4 linked regions of the Homo sapiens genome follow. The protein of the gene in region 4 purifies or fractionates together with the protein of the main gene of each other region. This does not show direct contact. Each region holds a gene or a part of one and is shown on either strand. Other genes may lie near its edges.

Region 1 (5,301 bases), on a different chromosome or scaffold from region 4:
CTGCGGTTGCTGAGGACTTTGGAAGCATCTTCCTGCATCCTCATCAGGACCCAAAGCCATGGGTACTATTATTATAACCCCCCAGTTTTCAGATGAGGGGCATAGATGCTTCAGCTCTAAGTAACTTGCTCCATTAGCATGGAAAATGGAGCTAGAATGGAAACTCAAATCTGGGCTCGCCACCATTCCAATTCCCTTGCCTGGGCGCACTGAAATGAAAAGTGGGACTGTGTCAGATTTCTAGGTCAGAGCAGGTCCCCAAGCAGAAGCCATGCAAATGCCCTGACCCACCCCTCCCGCGGCCCTGAGGCTCCTGAGCCTCAAGTGGCTCACCCAGTCCTGATAGTGAGGCTCTGGGTATGGCATCAGGAGACCCAGGAGACATGGCCCCTTTCTCTGGCTCAGCTGGGGCTCCCTGCAGCTGCTCCCCCTTCCCTTGGCCCCTTTATCTATGGGAAGGACCACGAGGAGGTCAGAAACCTTGTGTGGAAAGTGCGCCACGGTTGCTTGTGGGTCTGTTAAATCCAGTGCCTCAGAACCTACAGAGATCAAGGACAAAGCTATTTCCTGATTCTGAATTCCTCTTTCAGAGGAAAAAATTGTGCTTCCTGTTCAGAGCTGTGCCAAAGGTGTGGCTGCTGCCTAGGCCAGTAGCCCATGTTGGGGATGTGGGGCACCCCGAGGCTGAGGAGAGGTGAAGATCTGGGCGATGCCCTGCACAACAGCCTGCACCGTTCACACACACGCCCCACCACACACTCAAGAACTAAGGAGTCCAAGTTGGGGCAAGGCCCTGTTCCTGATAGCAAAGGTTAACACTTATTAGAGACAAGGTGGCCAAACAGGACTTTGGAAAAAATCGTGCTGGACTTCCTGTGACCTAGGCAGGTCGCTGAACCTCTGCTGAACCTCTCCAGGTCTCGGCGGCTCCATCTGCTAATTGAAGACAATCCCTCACCTGCATAATGTGGGGGAAAGGCAGGGAGGGCAGGTGCAGACAGCCCCAGCAGGTCCCTCTTCCCAGGGCTAGGAACTAGAAGTCCAGGAAACAGCTGTGATTTATTCTGCAGCACTGCAATATACCAATCTCCCTACTACCCATCTGCCCCGGGGCCAAACAAAAACACTAAGGAGTTTACAAAGCAAAGTGGCCTTCCCAAGGACAGGGAGGATGAGTCTGGAGCCAGGGTGGAGTCTGGAGCCAGGGTGGACTCTGGCACGGGAGCCTCATGGAGCTGAAATCTGTATCACGGCCCCATTGCTGAGCAGCTCAGTGACCTTGGGCAGGCCGCTCAACCACTCTGAAAACTCAGGGTCCCCTCCTCCGAGGGAGGCCTTGCTGCCACCAGCCCTGCTGGCCACCCTTGCCTGCTGAGGTCTGTGTGAAATCACGGGCTATGACACAATATAGTAGGTAGAGGTTCAAAGGATCCGGCAGGCCCATCCACTCAGAGTCTCGCTGCAAAGCAGCTCTGACACCAGGGCCACCTCTGGCACAGCATGCAACCGCCAAGCTGCGCCCAAGGGGAAGGAGCCAGAAGGGTTACAGGCTCCAGGCAAAAACCAGGCTGTGGTTTCATGTGAACTAGGATGACCCTGACTGAGAAAACCAGTGAGTGGTTTGGAAGATTTCAGTTCCAGCTTCCAGAGACAAAATGTCAGTGAATCAACCCCCTAGGTGCTCTTGCCCCCAACGGAAGTGACAATGCCTTGAGAGCTCTGGGTAGGGCATGGGGGCTCCATTCCAGAGCAGCTGTAAGACTGCCTCAATTGCTAAAACTGGAAAAAGCACAAAATCTAGGGCAGAGTTTTCGAACCTGCCCCAAATGGCCCCAGAGATGACCCAAGGCCCTCCCCCGCCACCCCGCCCCAGGATGGGAGGCCAAGCTCCAGGCTTTGGCTGCCTTGCCCAGAGCTGCACTGCTTTTGATGAAAGCTTGAAAACCATCCACCTGGTCCAACGGTGTCATTCAGCTGAGAAAGAGTGGCTTGGGGAATGAGTTTCCCAGGATAAGAGAAGAGCCCGTTTTCTTAGGTCAGATGCTTCCAAATTAGCACCCAATGATCCTCCATGTCCAGTAGTAGGATGTCTTCCCCTGTGCCTCGCTGCCACACTCTCTCCCTCTTTCAAGACTAAGTGGCAGCTTGGGAACAATTTAAACATTCTGAGTTAAATTTCTTTATTTCTGCTAAAGAACATGAGGTTGCCCAAAGAAAGGCTACTTCCCCCAGAGGCGGCAGCCAGCGTGCTTCCTGGAACATCCCTCACCACATGGGGGGCTCAGGAACTCCCCATTCCATCAGCACACTACTCTGCAAAGAGAAGGCAGGCACCCGCTTTACAGGTGGGAGACATAAGTCACCTTCCTGGGTCACCCTGCACATTTGTGTCAGGAAGAGAACATAGGCCTTGGACTATAGTCCTTCTGTGTGGCAAGGGAAAGAGAAATCAGAGGAAAAGATCAGGTAACAGGCTAGAACCCAGGGAAAAAAGCTAGGGTGCAATTACATAATACTGGAACATTGCACGTCCAGTTTAGAGGGGGATACGCCAGCCTGCCCACCACGGCCCTCACCGGCTCCCCACAGGACAGGCCTGAGGCCCTGGCAAGGACCTTCCTCCCTTCTGCCCCTAAACTCTGCCTCTGGGCAGGGAGTGGGGATCAGAGCCCAGAAGAGAACTTCTAACACACCAAAAGAAGCCATCAAAGATGTGATAGTCAAAGAAAGAAACTTCAAAAGTTGGCAATAGACACCAAGGGCCAAGGAGGAGTGGGGACACAAACAGGAGTAACAAGTCCCAGAGAAGCAGCACTCCAGGAACCTTCCAACCCAAGGCCCAAGGGAGGGACGGAGGAAACTCACCACCACCTGTGGCACCCCAGGGCTGCCACCAGGACTGCGGGCAGCGGCCACACCACCAGGCTACTAAGCAGTGGGAAAGTGGCTCGTCTGAGCTGAAATGTGCTGTAACGTAAAATGCGCACGTCATAACTTTTTTGCATGGTGTAATGACAGTATTTTGGATATATCTGGTTAAATAAAACATAATTAAAATTAATTTCACCTCTTTTTTTTTTTTTTTTTTTTTGAGACGGAGTCTCACTCTATTGCCCAGGCTGGAGTGCAGTGGCGCAATCTCAGCTCACTGCAAGCTCCGCCTCCCGGGTTCACACCATTCTCCTGCCTCAGCCTCCTGAGTAGCTGGGACTACAGGCGCCCACCACCACGCCCGATTAATTTTTTGTATTTTTAGTAGAGACAGGGTTTCACCGTGGTCTCGATCTCCTGACCTCGTGATCCACCCGCCTCGGCCTCCCAAAGTGCTGGGATTGCAGGCGTGAGCCACTGTGCCCGGCCCCGACTAATTTATTGTATTTTTAGTAGAGACGGGTTTCACTGTGTTAGCCAGGATGGTCTTGATCTCCTGACCTCGTGATCCGCCCGTCTCGGCCTCCCAAAGTGCTGAAATTACAGGCGTGAGCCACTGCACCCGGCCCCTCTTTTTACTTTTTTAACGTAGCCGCTGGAAAATTTAAAATTTCCTATGTGGCTTCCATTACAGTTCTAGAGGACAGGGCTGGTCTGAGGGGTGGCACACTGTGCCCCTGTGCCAAATTGGCCCACCAGCTGCTTTTCTAAGACCCCAAAACCAAGAATGGCTTTTACATTTTTAAGTGGCTATATCCTACACAACCTCCTCGATTTTGCCTGTTGGCCTGCAAAACCTAAAATATACAAGATTTCTTTTGAGTAAAAGGCTCCGGGATTTGATGAAAGCTTGAAAACCACCGACCTGGTCCAACTGTGTCATTCAGGTGGGAAAGAGTGGCTTGGGGAAGGAGTTCCCCAGGATAAAAGAAGAGTCCTTTATAAAAAAAATTGCCAAGCCTTGGTCTAGACTCTAGAAACAATCAGATATTCACTCCAGGTGACACAAGGAGCAGAAGGCAGGTGTGTGTGTGTGAGAGAGCGATTCTTGTACAGACAGTCCCTGACTTATAATTTTGACTTTGTGATAGGTCTGATGGGTTTTACCTGGATGTACCCCCACCATAAGTCCCATCATAAGTCAAGAAGCATTTGGAAGTGAACAATTCAGGGGCATTTAGTACATTTCACAAGGCTGTGCAACCAGCACTTTTATCTAGTTCCAAAACATTTCATCACCCCCAAAATAGAACCCCAGTCTCATTAGCAGTCATTCCACATTGCCCACCCAACCCTCAGGCTCTGGCAACAACCGATCTGCTTTCTGTTTCTACAGATTTACCTGTTTTGGACATTTTACATAAATGGAATCACACAGTATGTGACACATGACCTTTCATGTCTGCCTCTTAGCGCAATGTTTTCTAGGTTCGTCCATGTTGTGGCATGTCTCAGTACTTCGCTCCTTCTTAGAACTGAATGATATTCCATGGTATGGATACACTATGATTTGCTTATCTACGCATTAGTGGATGGACACTTGGATTGTTGCTGCCGTTTGGCTATTGTGAGTAGTGCTGTTATGAACATTTGTATACAAGTATCTGTTTGAATACACCTGTCCTCAATTCTTCTTGGCATATACCTAGAAGTGGGAATGCTGGCTCACGTGGTAGGTTTTATGCTGAACTTTTTGAGAAACCCCCAAACTGTTTCCACAGCAGCTACACCATTTCATTCCCACCAGCAACGTGCAAGAGTTATAACTTCTTCACATCCTCGCCAACATGTTATATTCTTATTTTTTTAATTCTAGCCATCCTGACAGGTATGAAGTGATATCTCACTGTGGTTTCAATTTGGGTTTCGCTGATGACAACGCTGAGCATTTGTCATGGTGCTTGGCCGTCTGAAATGGGATTTTGTGTGTCTGAGATTTTTGACACGCTCCCTGCCAAGCAACACACCAACTCCTGTTACAGATCTTCTACAAGGGGGGGATGCGAAATCTCCCCGTTGTTTCTGAGATACACATTAAGTCAAATCAGGAAGTCCTATGCCTTAGAACTTCTACGAATGTCTACAGGAACAAAGGGAAACCTGATGAAATGCTTCCCTGAGACCTCGTCCTGGCCCACACCCTCTATGTCTGAAATTCCCACCTGAGGCCCCCGCAGCTTTGGAGCCTTGGCAGTGGGGTATGGGCACAGCAAGGGCAGAATCACACCAGGAAGACTAAGAACCCTGGGAGAGATCAAGACCGAGCTCATTTCCAGATGGGAAAACAGGCCTGAGCAATGAAAATGACCCAGCCAAGGTCCCACAAAAAAACAGGGCTAGACAAAGAAGTAGAAACAGGCTTGCAGGCTC
Region 2 (5,301 bases), on a different chromosome or scaffold from region 4:
TCTCTCTCCCCCTCCCCCTTCCCCTCCCCCTTCCCCTCCTTCTCCCTGTTTTCTGTACTGTTCTGTTCTGTTCTGTTCTGTTCTGTTCTGTTCTGTTCTGTTCTGTTCTGTTCTGAGTCAGGGTCCAACTCTGTCACCCAGGCTGAAATACAGTAATGCGATCACGGCTCACTGAAGCCCCCGCCTCCCAGTCTCAGGTGATTCTCCCACCTCAGCCTCCTGAGTAACTGAGACTATAGCCGCATCCCACTACGCCCAGCTAATTTTTTAAATTTTTTGTAGAGATGGGGTTTTGCCATGTTGCCAGGATGGTCTCAAACTCCAAGTGATCCACCCACCTTGGCCTCCCAAAGTGCTGGGATTACAGGAGTGAGTCACTGTGCCTGGCTGTGCCTTTCTGATTTATCATGATTTCCCCATCATCTAGCATAATGCCTGGCACATTTTAAGCACCTATTCAGTACGTATGAATTTGTGAGCTGACCCACGGTCTCGGGTGGGAAATGGTGGGATTGAGACTAGAACTCAGACGAGCCTGAATCCACGGCTCTCCTGTTCCATTCTTGCCATCTTCCCAACCACTGGAAGAAAGTCATTTGCATGAAAGATGGACTCCCAGGCATCTGTTCCCTGAACCTGAACTTGCAGGTGAGCACAAGAGAGCTATTATTGGAGGTATCAAGACTGGTAGAAGCTGGGCGCGGTGGCTCATGCCTGTAATCCCAGCACTTTGGGAGGTCGAGGTGGGCGAATAACGAGGTCAGGAAGATCGAGGCCATCCTGGCTAACATGGTGAAACCCTGTCTCTACTAAAAAGACAAAAAATTAGCTGGGCGTGGTGCCGGGTGCCTGTTGTCCCAGCTACTCATGAGGCTGAGGCAGGAGAATGGCATAAACCTGGGAGGCCGAGCTTGCAGTGAGCCCAGATCGCACCACTGTACTCCAGCCTGGGCAACAGAACGAGACTCTGTCTCAAAAAAAAAAAAAAAAAAAGAGGACCTTCAGACCCCAATGGGAATGACGAAGCCATGGTGGTCAAGGTTGGAAGGGCCCTCGGAGGTTCGTGAGTCCCAGGTTTCTCATTGCGTGTGTATCAGGTGCTCTGTGTTTACATGCATGGGGGCTTGGCAGCAGACTACATCAATCACAAAGTCAGAAAAGGACTCTTCTTCACTCCTTCAATAACTTGAAGAAGAAAATCTCGGCCAGGCGCGGTGGCTCACACCTGTAATCCCAGCACTTTGGGAAGCCGAGGCAGACAGATCACAAGGTCAGGAGTTCGAGACCAGACTGACCAACATGGTGAAACCCTGTCTCTACTAAAGATACAAAAATTAGCTGGGCATGGTGGTGGGCACCTGTAATCCCAGGTACTCAGGAGGCTGAGGCAGGAGAATTGCTTGAACCCAGGAGACGGAGGTTGCAGTGAGCTGAGATTGAGCCACTGAACTCTAGCCTGGCGACAGAGAGAGACTCCGTCTCAAATGAAAAAAAAAGAAAGAAAAAAAAGGATTCTTCTTCACTCCTTCAATAACTTGAAGAAGAAAATCTTGAGACCAGGTGCAGTGTCTCACACCTGTAATCCCTGCAGTTACAGAGGTTGAGGTGGGAGGATCACCTGAGCCCAGGAATTTGAGACCAGCCCTGGCAACATAGTGAGATCCCATCTTTACAAGAAAATTAGCTGGCCATGGTGGCATGTGCCTGTAGTCCCTGCTACTCAGGAGGCCAAGGTGGGAAGATCATTTGAGCCTGGGAGGTCGAGGCTACAGTGAGCCATGTACTATAGGTTGGACCACTGCACTCCAGCCTGTGCTACAGAGCAAGACCCTATCTCCAAAAAAAAAAAAAAAAAAAAAAAAGAGAGAGAGAAAGAAAATCTCTAGATGATGCTGGTGTATTCTTAACATCTCTCTAACATCTGCTAATCTCCCTTTTTGACAAAGAGACAGCAGGATGCAAGCTCAGAGCCTTCCATAGAAAACACTCTCGAGGCCAGGCGCGGTGGCTCACGCCTGTAATCCCAACACTTTGGGAGGCTGAGGCGGGTGGATCACCTGAGGTCAGGAGTTTAAGACCAGCCTGGCCAATATGGCGAAACCCCGTTTCTACTAAAAATACAAAAATTAGCTGGGCATGGTGGCAGGCACCTGTAATCCCAATACTTGGGAGGCTGAGGCGGGAGGATCGCTTGAACCTAGGAGGCAGAGATTGCAGTGAGCTGAGATCACACCATTGCCATTGCACTCTAGCCCAGGCGACAGAGTGAGACTCTGTCTCAAAAAAAAGAAAAAGAAAAAGAAAACACTCTCAAGTTAGGGTGTAACGACATTTCTGTTTTGTTTTTTCTTTTTCTACCTTTCTTCTCTTTTTTGTTTTGTTTTGTTTTGTTTTTTGAGACAGTTTCATTCTGTTGCCCAGGCTGGAGTGCAATGGCGCGATCTCGGCTCACCACAATCTCCGCCTCCCAGGTTCAAGTGATTCTCCTGCCTCAGCCTCCCAAGTAGCTGGGATTACAGGCATGCACCACCATGCCCAGCTAATTTTCACCATGTTGGCCAGGCTGGTTTCAAACTCCCGACCTCGGGTGATCCACCCACCTCGGCCTCCCAAAGTGCTGGGATTACAGGCGTGAGCCACCGTGCCCAGCCTCTACCTTTCTTCTTAACCTCTTCTTCTTAACAGGAAGTAATTCTAGTTTTCTACTTGTGTTGATGATGTGAAGTTTTGTTTCAATAGAAGGGGAAAAAGATGTTGATTTAAAGAATAACAAAGTAAGTAACAGATTAGATAAGGCTATGGTAACAATCGTATCATATAAGCAGGAGGAAAGTGACTGAAGATTGTGAAACATTCACATGGTTCAACCACTTCCCTGCAATGTGGGAAAACCGAGGCTCTCGACAGGAGGAAGTCCAGCATCTGGGTTCAACTGCGAGTTAGCGGACACCACAGGCCCAGTCCTTCACCCATGCCCCCATCACAAACCACCCCAACCACGTGGAAAACTGGCCCACCTGGTATCTTGCTCCATGGGCCTCCTCAGGGTGGAAGCAGTTTTGACAGCGGTTCTGGGTAAGTATGTTGGCCTCAAAGTGTTCACACAGGGCATCCCCAGGCACCTCCTCCATATTGGGTGAGTCAGGCCAGGGCAGTTCCTATGATCCAATGGCTGACCGTCTATGTGAGGCCTGGCAAAAATGAGGGGGAGGCAAAGACCAGATGACTGGCTGGCCACTCACCTGAACCCCAGCCCCAGTTGCCCCAGTTTCCAGACAAGGACCAAGGAAATAAGGTTACTCATCCATTCCTTTGGGTTCCTGTTCTCCATCCATTCCTGTTCATTTATTCACTCAACAAACACTCACTAAGCACCTACTAAGCACCAGGCACTCTGCCAGCATTTGATGTGCGATTTCTAGTCCTTACTGCAGTGTTGCTGAAAGTGCACGCCAAGGACTCTGCATTACACCCTCCTGGGCTGTTCATAAAAATGCAGATACCAGGCCAGGCACAGTGGCTGATGCCTGTAATCCCAGCACTTTGGGAGGCCGAGGTGGGCCGATCACTTGAGGTCAGGAGTTCGAGACCAGCCTGGCCAATATGGTAAAACCCTGTCTCTACTAAAAATACAAAAATCAGCCAAGTGTGATGGCACGTGCCTGTAATCCCAGCTACTTGGGAGCCTGAGGCAGGAGAATGGCTTGAACCCAGGAGGCGGAGGTTGCAGTGAGCCAAGATTGCGCCATTGCACTCCAGCCTGGGCGACAGAGTGAGACTTCATCTCAAAACAAAAAACAAAAAAATGCAGATTCCAGCTGGGCCCATTGCGGGCGGCGGATCATTTGAGCCCAAGAGTTCAAGACCATCCTGGGCAACTGGCGAAACTCCGTCTCTACAAAAAATACAAAAATTAGCTGGGCAAGGTGGTGCAGGCCTGTGGTCCCTGCTACTCAGGAGGCTGAAGTTGGGAGGATCACCTGAGTCTGGGAGGTCGAGGCTGCAGTGAGCCATGACTGTGCCACTGCACTGAGAAAAAAAAAAAGCAGATTTCAGCTGGGTAAGATGGTGTGCACCTGCAGTCCAAGCTACTCGGGAGGCAGAGGTGGGAGGATCTCTTGAGCCCAGGAGTTTGAGGTGGTAGTGTGCTATAACTGCACCTGTGAATAGTTACAGCACTCCAGCCTAGGCAACATAGCAAGACCACATCTCAAAAAAAAAAAAAAAAAATCTAGATTCCCCTTTCTCTCTCCCAATTCACACAGTTAGAATCTCCAAGAGACTGAGGTCTGGGGCTGTGCATGTTAAAGAAGTGATTCCAGCCGAGGGCGGTGGCTCACGCCTGTAATCCCAGCACTTTGGGAGGCTGAGGCAGGCAGATCACTTGAGGCCAGGAGTTCAAGACCAGCCTGGCCAACATGGTGAAACCCCGCCTCTACTAAATACAAAAATTAGCTGGGCGTGGTAGCACGCACCTGTAGTCCCAGCTACTTGGGAGGCTGAGGCACGAGAATCGCTTGAACCTGGGAGGCAGAGGTAGCAGTGAGCGGAGAGCACGCCACTTCACTCCAGACTGAGCAACAGAGCGAGACTCCATCTCAAAATAAATAAATAAATAAATAAATAAATGAAAATGAAAATAAAGAAGCGATTCCTGGCCAGGCGCAGTGGCTCACGCCTATAATCCCAGCACTTTGGGAGGCCGAGGCGGGCAGATCACCTGAGGTCAGGAGTTCGAGACCAGCCTGGCCAATATTGCCAAACCCTGTCTCTACTAAAAATACAAAATTAGCCAGGCATGGTGGTATGCACCTGTAGTCCCAGTTACTCGGGAGGCTGAGGCAGGAGAATCACTTGAACCCAGGAGGCGGAGGTTGCAGTGAGCCAAGATTGCACCACTGTACTCCAGCCTGGGTGATAAGAGTGAGACTCTGTCTTAAAAAAAAAAAGTGATTCCCCAGGTGATTCTAGTGCGCCCCAAAGTTTGAGTGTCCTTGTCTTATAGCTGCATTGTAGATCAAATTAATGCCAATTTTAGATCAGGCAACTAAGGCTCAGAGAGGTTCCTTCGGTCACTGAAGGTCGCAGTGGCTGATTCAAATCCAGGGCTGTGTGTGTCCCTGCTCTCTCGGAGGTGGAAGTGAGGAGCACTGGATCATACTGCCAACTCGCACAGGTCCCTTGGGAAGCACAGCGAGGGAGGCAAAAAGCTGGCCAGGTATTTTCAGAGTTGAGGACGACGTCTTTGACAAACGTGAACAGCCTAAAGTCACACAGCAAGTTTGTGGCAGAACTTAGCCA
Region 3 (5,301 bases), on a different chromosome or scaffold from region 4:
GACAGAGCGAGATCCTGTCTCAGAAAAAAAGAGAAACGTGAACATTTTCTCAAAATAGAAAAATGATATCAATTCCAAATAACAATTATAATTAGCTACATACAGGAGTCTCAAGGTCACTGTTGACCTGTGAGAGAAACAGAAAAGTATAATGTGTAGAAGTGCAGTGCTGAGCAGCCAGTACCAGGGTCTCATCCATCTCTGCCTCTCATTAACTGTCCCTTTCCAAGGGGCCATTTCTCTAGGCCTCAGCCTCATCTGTGAAAAGAATTCCCTCCCACCACCGCCACCCCATTCCCACCACTAACAGTCGCCTTGTACTGTGGCAGATTGCGACCATATCTAACCTGGCTAAAACTCTTAAGTCCCCGAGGGCAGGGCTTGTCATTCATCCAGAGATCTTCTAATACCCAATTATCCCATCAACACATACTGGTAATGGGAAACCTGACAATGACTACGGCCAGCCCTGACCTTATTCGAGGACAGTCCAGCAGCAAAGTGCCTATGGCAGAGAAGGTGCTCAAGTCAATTACAATGACCCATCTGAAGAGCTTCTGTCAGGTCAGGCAGGCAGCCTGTTACAGGCAGATCCACAGCCCTTTTTGCTTGGTTTTTGACTGAAATGGCTTGAGGACGTCACCCAAGGTGAATGCTGATATTAGCAGTTCTGAGTACAGCTGACGTGGCAGTCCCTTCCCCCATGCACAATACTTCCCACAGAAGCATGTTTTCCTCCAGAAGAGCAGGCTTCCAGCTGAGGGTCAGTTCCTCAACTAAAAGTGTGGCCCTGTCTTCTTCAGGTCCCCATCAAGACAGCCACATCAGGCTGGGGGGCCAAGAAGAAAAAGGCAAAGTGAAGAGCCAGTTGGGGATATTTCCCCCACTGGGCTGAGCAGCCAAAGGCCTACCTGTGAGCCTAGAAGTACTGTCAGGAGGTGCCTGGGACACCTACTGTGAGACTAGGAGTACTGTCGGGGGGCCGGGACATCTGTGAGCCTAGGAGTACTGTCAGGGGTTGCCTGGGACACCTACTGTGAGCCTAGGAGTATTGTCAAGTGGGGCGCAGGACATCTCCTGTGAGACTACAAGAATTGTCAGGTGGGGCCTGGGACATCTCCATTCCTTCCTGTTAACAGCAAAACTGGGAAACTGCTGCCACCAAAAGCTGAAGACAGAACAGACCCAACTCCTTGGGGTGAGAAACTTAAGACTCATCCTTAGAATTCATCAGGTCTCTGTGAAATAGTCATATTACAAAACCACCTTTTCATTGCATATAAATTGCATTTTATTACATCCAATAGAAATAGATCCTAAAAATGGTCAATAGTATGTTGACTGGTTGACATAGCAACCGATGACTAGTTTTCAAATTGAGAGTATAAAACCCACAATTATTACTTTTCACTCATGTATGATAGGTTTTCGAACTGTGGGTGGCAGTGGGGTGGGGAATAGCGGCACATGATAGAAAAATAGAGCCCTTGTAATTGTATTCTCAAACTTTGAGAGGTGGTCATTGTGGGTTCTTAACCTGGGTATTCCAAGGAGGTTTATAAATGGCCTTAGGGCAAGGAGTTCCATGAAACTCATGAGACTGATAAAAATTATGAATTTATAGCATCATTGTACATACATCAGTTTCTCCAAGGAAGAATGGTCCAAAACCCCCATCAGATTTGCAAGTGTCCATCTATGCCTCACGAATATTTAAGAATCACTGCTGGATGGTTTTCTCTGGTTTGCAAATGGATTCCTCTTAGAGAAAAAAAAAAAAAAAGAAAAAAAAATGGAAAACACTTTACTCTGTGCTGCCCTAGTGCAAAAGGAGGCTTCTCTGGCCTTTTATTCTCCATCAGTTAACACTGCCTGTTTTCTGAGTGTCTATCACTTCAGCCAGCAAAAGGAACTGGACAGACTTAGTGAAAGTGAAAAGAGGTAGATGCTGCTTGTTAGTTTTAGAGTTATTATCTCTTTGAAAAGAACAGCTAAATTAAGCAAACTGATTGCAAAAACGTGGAACCAACCCAAATACCCATCAATCAATGAGTGGATAAAGAAACTGTGGTGTGTGTATATATATACATATATATATGTGTGTATATATATATATACACACACATATATATGTGTATATATATACACATACATATATACACATATATATACACATATATATACACATATATATACACATATATATACACATATATATACACATATATATACACATATATATACATATATATATACACATATATATATATATACACATATATATATATATATGATGGATACTACTTAGCCATAAAAAGGAGTGAACTAATAGCATTCACAGTGACCTGGATGAGATTGGAGATTATTATTCTAAGTGAAGTAACTCAGGAATGGAAAGCCAAACATCGTACATTCCTACCCATAAGTAGGAGCTAAGCTATGAGGATGCAAAGGCATAAGAATGACAAAATGGACTTTGGGGACTCAGGAGGAAAGGGTGGGAAGGGAGTGAGGGATAAAAGACTACAAATAGGATGCAGCGTATACTGCTCAGGTGATGGGTACACCAAAATCTCACAAATCACCACTAAAGAACTTACTCATGTAACCAAACACCCAGTTCCCCAATAACCCATGGAAATAAAAAATTTAATAAATAAATTAATTAAGCAAATTGAACTTATCTAGATCATAAGAAAACAGAATATCTTATCGATAACAATACCTAAAATGGATATGAAAAATTAAGTTGAGCTTTAAAAGGTAATATAATAAATAAGTGTAAGGGAAACTGGTTCCTTGATAATAAGCTTTGGTGTTCACTAAATGTCAATTTTTTTCTTTCCTTTTTTTTTTTTTTTTGAGACAGTGTCTCGCTGTCACCCAGGCTGGAGTGCAGTGGTGTGATCTTGGCTCACTGCAATATAAATATACTTTTTTTTTTTAAAGTAGATATGGGGTTTTGTGCCATGTTGCCCAGACTGGTCTTGAACTCCTGAGCTCAAGTGGTCTGCCCTCCTCAGCCTCTCAAAGGGCTTGGATTACAGGCAGCAGCCACTGTGCCTGGCCTAAATGTCAATTTAAGAAAATAAATAAATAAATAAGGAAAGAAAAAAAAAGAGCCCATGTATTTCCTTCCACTGTACAGTAAGCTTCTTGGACTACAACCACCTTTTCTCACAACTAGATTCTGCTTATTTAGAAGCAGGGATTAGCAAATCATGAAGAACTTCCCAAAGGTGTCCCCTTGCCCCGGTGTGACATATGGTCATGGAATTATACGGCAAGACTAATTTCCAGTGAATGCCATTCACTACAGAAGGGACTGGCCTAGATCGCAAGTAAGGTTAGATGAGGTGACACTGATCACAAAAACCCAGCTGGTGAATCAATCAAGACACAATGCACAAACTTCCGCAAAGAGTGGATAAGGAGGAAAAGTGTTTCTTTCACATCTTCTGAACTTCGACTTCGCACTTTGTTGCTGATTTCTGCCTTTTGATTATTGTTTAATTCTCCTCTAGACTAGGACAACTCTATATCTGATGACCGCCATGAGGGGCTTAATGACCTCTGAGGCAGGAGTAGTTGAGAGATGTTAATCTCCTACTGTGTGGCAGATACTCTACTGGACACATAGAATATAAAATTGAAGAACAAGGCATGCTTCCTTCAGTTAAACAGAAGAAGGTACTGCTTTGTTTTTAAACACATGGTTAAGTCAGTAAAGTTACTTTTTATTTGTATTTATTTATTTTTTTAGACAGGGTCTCACTCTGTTGCCCATGCTGGAGTGTAGTGGTAAGATTTTGGCTCACTGCAACCCTCGATCTCATGGGTTGAGGTGATCCTCCCACCTCAGCCTCCTGAGTAGCTGGGACTACAGGAATGCACCACCATGCCCAACTAATTTTTGTATTTTTTTAGAGACAAAGTTTCGCCATGTTTCCCAAGCTGGTCTCTTAACTCCTGGGCTTAAGTGATCTTCCTGCCTCAGCTTCTCAAAGTGCTAGAATTACAGGTGTGAACCACCATGCCTGGCCAAAAGTTACTTTTTAAAATACTGATTAGATTTGCTGATATCTCTCAGTGGGCCTGATGTCAAAGACGAGGCTAATTTTTTTGTTCATTGTAGATGGCTGGAGCTAGAAAATTGACATTTGATGAACAATTTTTATCTTTTGTTGAACCACCTGTACTTTTCAGCTCATGACTAACTACAAAGGGAAGAAATATCTTTAAACTGGGCATGGTGGCTCACACCTGTAATCCCAGCACTTTGGGAGGCCAAGGCAGGTGGATCACTTGAGGTCAGGAGTTCGAGACCAGCCTGGCCAGCCATGGCCAACATGAAACCCCATCTCTACTAAAAATACAAAAATCAGCCGGGCATGGTGGCATGTACCTGCAGTCCCAGCTACTCAGGAGGCTGAGGCAGGAGAATTGATTGAACTTGAGAGGCGGAGGTTGCAGTGAGCCGAGATCACCCTATTGCACTCCCGCGTGGGCAACAGAGTGAGACTCTGTGTCTAAAAAAAAAAAAAAAAAAAAAAAATCTGTTTAAATTGTGCAACATTTTACTAATAATCATATAATTCTATGTTTATGATTTTCAGCTTAAAGTTTAACCCTATCTGGATCCATAATATACTGATTTCTTTCAATATCATTTTATTACAGAGGATACAATAAGAAATGTAAATGGTGTACTTCAGTATTCTAGTAATGTTTTAAAGGATATCATCAGTATCGTATACCTAATATAGTTCACTGGGAAAAAAAATCTAGACTCCTTTTCCCTATCACCATATAAAATGCATCCAAGAGGCCTCTGATATATTTAGCTTTGTTTTGTCAACTCCTATACTCATCATGCAAGGTAGAAAAAATTCAGTTGGCTTCTACTGAAACAATGCATTAGTGCTATAATAGTGAATGTTTTTTGTGCCATGAATTAAGGACTGTACGATGTGGCAATTCTTAGAGTATATCTAGGGACCTTTCTACATATTAGTTGCTCCAACATCTTCAGATTAAGGTTCTCATTTTCCTTCCATCATGAAAAATACATCCCTCCTCCCCCTCCAAAAAAATCCTCATAGATAAAAGCACAAAGTCAGGGCAATGATGATGTACACTCTGCAACAATCCAACAAAATACACTGTTTGTTCTTAGAAACGCAGTGTGGACCGGGGGCAGTGGCTCATGCCTGTAATCCCAGCACTTCAAGAGGCTGAAGCAGGAGGACCTTCTGAGCCCAGGAGTTCAAGACCAGCCTGGAAAACATAAGGAGACCTTGT
Region 4 (3,500 bases):
ACCCAGGCCACGCCCCATTTAGTTCCCTGCAAATCCTCGCAACCCGTCTTCAGATCCTGCCTCTACCCCACCACACACCCAATGCAGGCCCAAGCCTCTCTTTCAGGCACCACCCCTGCCCCACCACACACCCAATCCAGACCCAAGCTTCTCTCTCAGGCACCGCCCCTGCACCACCACACACCCAATCCAGACCCAAGCTTCTCTCTCAGGCACCGCCCCTGCACCACCACACACCCAATCCAGGCCCAAGCCTCTCTCAGGCACTGCCCCGCCCAGCCGTCCTACCGGCCTTAAAGCTGAGCTCGTCCTGCTCCTGGCCGTCATAGTCGTAGAGTGCCCGCACGCGCACTCCCTTGGAGTCGTCCTCAAAGGGGTTGGCGCCCCCGTTGGTCTCACTGCCCCCAAAGGGGTTCCCACTCTCGTCGTCTGACCACTCGGTGGCGTAGGGCTGGCCTCTGTCGTAGCTGCTAACACTGAGACGCGGAGGAAGGAGCCAGCTTCAATGTCTCCCCGTACCGCATCCCGAGGGCTAACCGCTCCTCCTAATCAGAGCCCTGATCCCGAATTCTACCAAGGCTAGAGCAAGGATTGGCCACATAGGAGGGGTGACCCTCATGAGCTCTTTAAACCGATGTTTAAATGCAGGACCATTTGCGTTATTATTCAGCCCTCGAGGGAGAGGGCATTGAAGGGGACCCCAGGGCACATCTGAGCCTTCATCCGGGAGGAGGAGTACCACCTAATGTTTAAGAGCAAGGATCCTGGAGTCAGACCTCCTGGGCAACATATCTGGCTCTGAGGTTTACTAACTAGCAATGTGATCTTGGGCAAGTCACTTAACCTGTCTGGGTTTCAGTTTCTCCATCTGTAAAATGGTAATATTTACGCACTTGAGCATGAATGAGTTAACATATGGAAAGTGCATAGAACCGTGCCACACACAGTAGGTGCTCTAGAAGGATATGCTACCACTATCTTTTAGAGAGGAGGCTTGGTTCCTGTGATCTGGACCGGGGTCCCCAACCCTGGGGCTGCAGACAGTCCGTGGCCTGTTAGGAACCAGGCAGCACAGCAGGAGGTGAGTGACAGGCGAGGGAGCATTATCGCCTGAGCTGCACCTCCTGTTAGATCAGCCGCGGCGTTAGATTCTCATAGGAGCGCAACCCCCCTATTGTGAACTGCGCATGCGAGGGATCCAGGTTGCACGTTCCTTAGGAGAATCTAACGCCTGATGATCTGAGGTGGAACAGTTTCATCCGAAAACCACCCCGCTCCCATCCGTGGAAAAATTGTCTTCCACAAAACTGGTCCCTGGTCCCAAAAAGATTGGGGACGGCTGCTTTAGAGTGATGAACTACCACTATCTTTTAGAGAGGAGACATAGTTGCTATGATCTAGACCATTTCTTGTCTTCTGAAGCAAAACTCAGCTGCCCCAGAGTGTGGGTCCCTCTTGGCCCCAGGAAGCTCCACAGGAGGCACTCACCTGCCGCGGTCCCCAGCCTGGGATGTGGACTCTACCGCCCCAGTGGCATTGGTCAGCGCCACTCCCTCTGCCTTCTTAGGCTGTTTCTCCTTCTTGGTGGTGGTGTGAGGAAGGTCTGGGTTCCACTCCTGGTGGGGCCAGTGGAGCAGTCAGGCTGGGGGACTATGCCCTGAGGCACCTTTCAGCCTCTTCAGGCTCCCCTTCCCATCCCCACATATCCTCACCTCAAACTGGGGCCAGTTCATGGGCATGCCGGGGCCACTGGTGCTGCGGAACCATCTGAGGTCTTCCTGGGCATCAGCCCCCCGGATGGCCTGCTCCAGCTCACGGTACACATGGATGTAGCTGTGCTCAGGGAGATGGGGGAGGTGGAGGGCACAGATTCAACATGGCCCCTCCTCAACCTTGGTGAGAGGCCAGAGTCCACTCAGGGAAGCAGGGTGCTGGGCATGCTGCCCAGCCAGGAATCATGTGGGCTTTGCAAGAATAAGCTCCGGGCATGCTCGGTGGACTCCTTTTCCCTCCCACCTTAGCCATTCACCCATCATCCAGCATGTGTTTCTAGAGTACCCAGTGTGCGTCAGCTTGCACTCAACAGCCCCTGTGTTTGAAGCCTCATCCTTCTTGACCCCTGCAGCTCTGCCTCCCCTTCCCGTCACTGTGATGGAGGGCTGGGATGCCCTGCATGCCAGTCACACCATCTGCTGGCTGTGCCTGTGCCCTCGGTGCCTGCCATGCCCAGGTACCTGCTGTTCTCAGCCAGGTTGAGGTGCCGTTTGATGTCCAGCAGCACCTCCTTGAGGAAGACCAGCCGCTTTTCCTCAAATTGCTGGCATTGCTCAAACACCTGCTCCATGTTCTCCATGTACTGGGGTGTGGTCTTGCCCACATCTTCCAGCACTTTCTCATACTTCTCCTGTGTCTGTGGGCACCAGAGTGGAGAGAGGGTGACACCTAGCCAGGCCTGCAGCTCCCAGCCACCACCCTCTGCAAGGGGCCCCCAGACCCCCTACTGCCATCCCTGCCCGCCAGCACCTTCTGCACATCCTGCTTGCACTTGTCCACTTTGTCCTGCAGCTTCTTTTGCTGCTCAGGTGTGACCGATTGCTCCGTCTTGCTGTTCATCTCCCGTGTCATGGCCAGCTTTTCCTCTTTGCAAGCCAAATGGTAGGCCTTCTTGGCTGCCTCCAGCTGTGGGGAGGGGGGAATAGGGAGTAGGGTTTTCATTTGTGACCAGCAGCAAACATGGTCACCCATTAACTCCTCCCCTGCCCACTCCCTGGGACCTGTGAGCCCACACTCTTAAGAGCCAGAAGGGATGCAGGCCCTGGCTCCAGGTGTTCGGGAGCAGCGCTCCTCCATTTGTGGCTGCGTCTCTGCTTGGCACTGCCTGCTCCCCTGCAGATACCCTCCTGTCAGGCAGTGCAGTGCCCGCCCCATCTGGGGACCCAGGGGCCAATGTGCTCTTCTGCCCCTGCTGGTATCTTTCCTGGGGACAGTGCCCCTTTTTGCCCATGGGTCTCCTTACCCAATGGGCACTGCCTACCCATCTGTGAATATTTTTTCCTGGAAGGCAGTGCTGCTCCCCTGTGGGCACAATCCCAGAGGGCAGTGCCCAGCCCACCCATCCATAGATGCCCTCCCTGGGATCAGCACCCTCTGATCAGACGGGCCCACCCCACCCCGCCCGTGGCAGCACCCACTGAGCACCTCCTTCATCTTCTTGGCCCAAGGCTTCTGGGCCTTGCGGAAGCCATCTTCAGCCTCCTTCGTCTCCTTGAAGCCACCCATGATCTGCTTGTGATAGGCGTCCTTCTGCCAGTTCTTCACCTTCTCCAGGTCCTCATTCAGCAGATTGTTCTTCACCTCCTGGTGCAGCTCGCTCACCTTGTCTGCCTCTGTCATTATGGCACCCCAGGCCCGCTCCAGGCTGCCATACTGTGGGCCTGAGGGAATGGCAATAGGTCACAAGAACCTCATTGCCCCTGCCCAGAGGCCCCCCCTCACATCTC

What was found. The genes of interacting proteins can lie anywhere in the genome.
Region 1: the proteins of PACSIN1 (region 4) and MPRIP purify together in Homo sapiens (co-immunoprecipitation; 3 studies listed by BioGRID and IntAct, with this or other methods). This does not show direct contact.
Region 2: the proteins of PACSIN1 (region 4) and TRIOBP purify together in Homo sapiens (co-immunoprecipitation; 3 studies listed by BioGRID and IntAct, with this or other methods). This does not show direct contact.
Region 3: the proteins of PACSIN1 (region 4) and RAI14 purify together in Homo sapiens (co-immunoprecipitation; 3 studies listed by BioGRID and IntAct, with this or other methods). This does not show direct contact.

What each region holds. Positions count from the first base shown.
Region 1 is NC_000017.11:17,048,105-17,053,405, reverse strand, and holds part of MPRIP (myosin phosphatase Rho-interacting protein), read right to left. Parts: intron 1-5,301. UniProt on the Homo sapiens protein: Targets myosin phosphatase to the actin cytoskeleton. Required for the regulation of the actin cytoskeleton by RhoA and ROCK1.
Region 2 is NC_000022.11:37,699,196-37,704,496, reverse strand, and holds part of TRIOBP (TRIO and F-actin-binding protein), read right to left. Parts: intron 3,192-5,301; 5' UTR 3,132-3,191; coding exon 3,018-3,131; intron 1-3,017.
Region 3 is NC_000005.10:34,661,976-34,667,276, reverse strand, and holds part of RAI14 (ankycorbin), read right to left. Parts: intron 1-5,301. UniProt on the Homo sapiens protein: Plays a role in actin regulation at the ectoplasmic specialization, a type of cell junction specific to testis. Important for establishment of sperm polarity and normal spermatid adhesion.
Region 4 is NC_000006.12:34,528,576-34,532,075, reverse strand, and holds part of PACSIN1 (protein kinase C and casein kinase substrate in neurons protein 1), read right to left. Parts: intron 3,435-3,500; coding exon 3,199-3,434; intron 2,680-3,198; coding exon 2,524-2,679; intron 2,411-2,523; coding exon 2,235-2,410; intron 1,834-2,234; coding exon 1,713-1,833; intron 1,617-1,712; coding exon 1,489-1,616; intron 477-1,488; coding exon 289-476; intron 1-288. UniProt on the Homo sapiens protein: Plays a role in the reorganization of the microtubule cytoskeleton via its interaction with MAPT; this decreases microtubule stability and inhibits MAPT-induced microtubule polymerization.